Linked DNA regions of Homo sapiens: region 2 is linked to region 1. The links come from fine-mapping of genetic effects on gene expression. Tissue or cell type: nucleus accumbens. Region 1 holds a variant in brackets; the other region holds the start of a gene. All regions are shown on one strand. Distances are between the middles of the regions.

Region 1 (2,614 bases):
GGGTCTCACAACCTTCAGAGCTGAGAGCCCTGAACAGAGATTTACCCACGTATTTATTAACAGCAAGCCAGTCATTAGCCTTGTTTCTATAGATATTTGATTAACTAAAAGTATCCCTTATGAGAAATGAAGGAATGGGCTGAAATAAAGGGATGGGTCTGGCTAGTTATCTGCAGCAGGAGCATGTCCTTAAGGCACAGATCACTCATGCTACTGGTTGTGGTTTAAGAACTCCTTTAAGCAGTTTTCTGCCCTGGGCGGGCCAGGTGTTCCTTGCCCTCATTCCAGTAAACCCACAACCTTCCAGCGTGGGTGTTATGGCCATCATGAACCTGTCACAGTGCTGCTGAGATTTTGTTTATGGCCAGTTTTGGGGCTGGTTTATGGCCAGATTTTGTGGAGCCTGTTCCCAACATTCATGAAACTAAATTTATACTTTTTTTTAATTATACTTTAAGTTCTGGGGTACATGTGCAGAATGTGCAGGTTTGTTACATAGGTATACACATGCGTTGGTGGTTTGCTGCACCCATCAACCCGTCATCTACATTAGGTATTTCTCCTTATGCTATCCCTCCCCCAGCCCCCCACCCCCTACAGGCCCCGGTGTGTGATCTCCTGCCCCTGTGTCCATGTGTTCTCATTGTTCGACTCCCACTTATGAATGAGAACCTGAGGTGTTTGGTTTTCTGTTCTTGTGTTAGTTTGCTGAGAATGATGGTTTCCAGCTTCATCCACGTCCCTCCAAAGGACATGAATGCATCCTTTTTTATGGCTGCATAGTATTCCCTGGTGTATATGTGCTGCATTTTCTTTATCCAGTCTATCATTGATGGGCATTTGGGTTGGCTCCAAATCTTTGCTATTGTGAACAGTGCTGCAGTAAGCATACATGTGCATGTGTCTTTATAGTAGAATGATTTATAATCCTTTGGGTATATACCCAGCAATGGGATTGCTGGGTCAAATGGTATTTCTAGTTCTAGATCCTTGAGGAATCGCCACACTGTCTTCCACAATGGTTGAACTCATTTACACTCCCACCAACAGTGTAAAAGCATTCCTATTTCTCCACGTCCTCTCTAGCATCTGTTGTTTCCTGACTTTTTAATGATCACCATTCTAACTGGTGTGAGATGGTATCTCATTGTGGTTTTGATTTGCATTTCTCTAATGACCAGTGATGATGAGCTTTTCTTCATGTTTGTTGGATGCAAAAATGTCTTCTTTTGAAAAGTTTCTGTTCATATCCTTCACCCACTTTTTGATGGAGTTATTTGTTTTTTTCTTGTAAATTTGTTTAAGTTCTTT[G/T]TAGATTCTGGATATTAGCCCTTTGTCAGATGGGTAGGTTGCAAAAATTTTCTGTAGGTTGCCAGTTCACTCTGTTGATAGTTTCTTTTGCTGTGCAGAAGCTCTTTAGTTTAATCAGATCCCATTTTTCTATTTTGGCTTTTGTTGCCACTGCTTTTGGTGTTTTAGTTATGAAGTCTTTGCCCATGCCTATGTCCTGAATGGTATTGCCTAGGTTTTCTTCTAGGGTTTTTATGGTTTTAGGTCTTACGTTTAAGTCTTTAATCCATCTTGAGTTAATTTTTGTATAAGGTGTAAGGAAGGGATTCAGTTTCAGCTTTCTGCATATGGCTAGCCAGTTTTGCCAACATCATTTATTAAATAGGGAATCCTTTCCCCATTTCTTGTTTTTGTCAGGTTTCTCAAAGATCAGATGGTTGTAGATGTTTGGCGTTGTTTCTGAGGCCTCTATTCTGTTCCATTGGTCTATATATCTGTTTTGGTACCAGTACCGTGCCGTTTTTGTTGCTGTAGCCTTGTAGTATAGTTCGTAGTCAGTTAGTGTGATGCTTCCAGCTTTGTTCTTTTTGCTTAGGATTGTGTTGGCTATGCGGGCTCTTTTTTGGTTCCATATGAAATTTAAAGTTCTTTCTAATTCTGTAAAGAAAGTCAATGGTAGCTTGATTGGGATAGCATTGAATCTATAAATTACTTTGGGCAGTATGGCCATTTTGATGATATTGGTTCTTCCTATCCATGAGCATGGAATGTTTTTGCATTTGTTTGTGTCCTCTCTTATTTTCTTGAGCAGTGGTTTGTAGTTCTCCTTGAAGAGGTCCTTCACATCCCTTGTAAGTTGTATTCCTAGGTATTTTATTCTCTTTGTAGCCATTGTGAATGGGAGTTCACTCACGATTTGGCTCTCTGTTTGGCTGTTTTTGGTGTATAGGAATGCTTGTGATTTTTGCACATTGATTTTGTATCCTGAGACTTTGCTGAAGTTACTTATCAGCTTAAGGAGATTTGGGGCTGAGATGATGGAGTTTTCTAAATATACAATCATGTCATCTGCAAACAGGGACAATTTGACTTCCTCTTTTCCTAATTGAATATCCTTTATTTCTTTCTCCTGCCTGATTGTCTTGGCCAGAACTTCCAATACTGTGTTGAATAGGAGTGGTGGGAGAGGGCATCCTTGTCTTGTGCTGGTTTTCAAAGGGAATGCTTCCAGGTTATGCCCATTCAGTATGATATTGGCTGTGGGTTTGTCATAAATGGCTGTTATTATTTTGAGATATGTTCCATCAGTGCCTAGTTTGTTGAG
Region 2 (2,614 bases), 68 kb before region 1:
GTAACTAGCTTCAACTAATTATGTCTTGACCAGTTTATTGGAAACTCCTGGGTTAGATAATACTAATTTGTCTCATGCGTCCAGTATAGGGAGCCTATGGACAGGGGCCAATGTATCTTAAACAGACACACAAACAATGGAAAGCAAACATTATCTGAATGGGATTGGGTTAAGTTTGGAAAGAATTCCTCATGGAGACTGATTTGTGCTGGTTTGGCTAGGCACAACTGGCCTGTTAAGAGGGTAGGACCATATATAAAGTGGCTTGGGAAGCAGAGCCGGATGGAATGTTGCCCTGCAGAAAGCATATTGGCTTACTTGAGGTGGGGGCTCCCTAGTAAAAACATTTAGGATTGAGGGAAGATCTGATTTTGGATGGAGTTTAGATTTGCTAGGAAAGGCACTAGGGACTATTGTCAATTCTATAATAGATTGTGCTGGGTGAGACAAATCACCCAGGTCAAAGGATTGGAGGATTTTTATTTTATTTTTGTCTGAGATGGGAAAAGACTCCAAGTGGGGAAATTAACTACTGATGCATAAATTACATGCTAGATTATGGTAAAAGGGAAAACCAGAAATAAAAACATAGGTGAGACCAAATAATTTCATGAGTGGTTCTACTTGGATTTCTGCCCTATGCCTTAGACTTTGAGGCTTTGTAACTCTCAAGCATTCCAAAAGGACAAAGGAGAATGAAGAAAGAAGGTAAGAAAAAGAAGAGAATATGTAACAGTCGACTCTAGACGAGAAAACACCAAACGCTCAAATATTTGTAAAATGGGAGGCCATGCCCCAATAGCAATTGTACGCTGTAATTACCCAACGTTTACAGAAATTCCTTTAAAAGGACCCTCGGGGTTGCGGTAATAATTAAACTGTTAAAAAATATCAAAACAAGCGGAATAAACAAAATCTTCTATTCCTAAATTGCTCTAGAGGTTCTCCAATCCCCAAAGACACAGAGAAGGGTTGTAAGATCTCAGTACGCACATTTGCACTTTCATCTGGCCAGTGGCGCCAGCCTATCAAATACAGTAAATGGCTTTTCCCTTTCAAGAATGTTGGAACTTTGGAACTTACAAAATACTAAATAATTTGCCCTTATTCGAACGGGCGCCTCTCCTCTTAGGTTTATAGTAATGCCACCTGAGGCGCGGCTCCATAGCGATCATCACAGGTGTGGCGGGAGGGAGGGCGGCAGTGACCACGAGACGGGGCGCAGAGGGCGAGCGCACGGCTGGCAGTGACAGGTCGCGACCCAGCTCCTTGCGGAGAGCAGAAAGGCCCAGACGCCAGGGAACAGGACTAGCCCAGCTACCGCCTCGCGCCTCGCGCCCTGCGCCCACAAACCCATCGACGTCCGCGCAGGCGCACTACGCCGGTGCCCGGTGCGAGGGCGTCACCGGAAGTGTCCCGCGGCGCCCCGGATGCGACCGGGCAACAGCGGTTGCCAGGGCGACGGGAGCTTTCCGGAGCTGCTGGTACTCCCGATTGGAGACGTAGAACCGTTACTTGTCGAGGGCCTTAGCGGCCGCCGTGACCCTCTCGGGGATCCCACGATGTTCTTCTACCTGAGCAAGAAAGTGAGTTTCCTGGGGGGCGTCCTCGTTTCTCCGCCATTCCCGCAGCCTGCGGCGATTCCCGCTGCCTTCCCGAGAAGCCAGGCTCCTTCACCCGGTCCTGGTCGTGGCTTCGCCATTCCGCAGCCATCCTTCCCGCCGGGTCCAGCCTCCGACCTCTTCCTGCGGTTCCCAGAGCCTCAGTCTTTGGCCGAGCTTGCTGCCCTCTCGCAGCACTCTCCCATTCCTGCCCCTGGCTAGGTCCTTTTGGGTGGCTTGAGGATAAGTCGCCACGTGCTACCCTATGTTTCCTCCTCCACTTGTTGCTGATCCACGTGATTTAAACTCTTTGGATCACCACGAGCCATTGGGCAAGAGAAAAGAAATAACAATAGGATAGCCTAAGTTGTAGGTAAAAAGGAAGAGGGACTGGTGGTATGGATTTATACCCTCTCCCCGTCCTCCCTTTAAAAAATCCATCCGGTGAGACTCTGGCGTTGGCTTCCTCCGCAGTCACTATCCTTCTCTTTTGTGCACTTCTTTCCCTCTTTCCCAAATGCTAGAGCCCGGGTCAGTTCAGGGGACCATGCCCATTTTCACAACAGCTCATTTTTTTTCTGCAAGGCCGTTCGTTTTTCTTCTTGGAAGATTTTCTTCAGCTTTCATCTCCTGCAGACTTACTTCCCAGCTCCTTCGTGAAAAGTTGCTAGTGCGGCTGTGGTTGCTTTTTCAGATTTCCATTCCCAATAACGTGAAGCTGCAGTGTGTATCCTGGAACAAGGAACAAGGGTTCATAGCATGCGGTGGTGAAGATGGATTACTGAAAGTTTTGAAATTAGAGACGCAGACAGGTAAATGAATGCAAGCCCACATGTTTGGTAGTAAATTGGCTAATGTTATTTGTTCAGTGCGGTCTACTCATGTTATCTGTCAATATGCAGTTCTGATTATTTTAAAGGGAAAACTACCAAAACATTTTATGGTGTTTTTCTGGAGTATATTTGCAATAAAGTTCAGAGAATGTTGAATGTAAACATCGGATGGTTTTTGCT

Which allele goes with the higher level. Alleles are on the strand shown, and positions count from the first base shown. SD is a standard deviation of normalised expression in the study named.
With allele G in place of T in region 1, the expression in nucleus accumbens of the gene that starts at base 1,374 in region 2 is higher (large effect, 0.92 SD a copy in GTEx).

The links. PIP is the estimated chance that this variant, and not a neighbour inherited with it, causes the effect.
Region 2: WDR35-DT starts here. The variant in region 1 is fine-mapped to the expression of WDR35-DT in nucleus accumbens (GTEx, PIP 0.95).

Annotation. Positions count from the first base shown.
Region 1 is chr2:19,920,548-19,923,161 of GRCh38, reverse strand. All of the region lies in intron 25 of WDR35 (WD repeat domain 35), which reads left to right. Among named protein-coding and RNA genes, the nearest start is that of TTC32, 20 kb to the right of the region's middle. The variant G/T (reference allele first, on the strand shown) is at 1,312.
Region 2 is chr2:19,988,964-19,991,577 of GRCh38, reverse strand. It overlaps WDR35-DT (WDR35 divergent transcript), which reads right to left and starts at 1,374. Exons shown (of 3, transcript NR_110235.1): 1 at 1,084-1,374. WDR35 (WD repeat domain 35) reads left to right here and starts at 1,473. Exons shown (of 27, transcript NM_020779.4): 1 at 1,473-1,586; 2 at 2,296-2,413. The coding sequence starts at 1,563. RefSeq lists a silencer at 1,253-1,332 and enhancers at 1,493-1,542, 1,173-1,676, 1,693-1,742.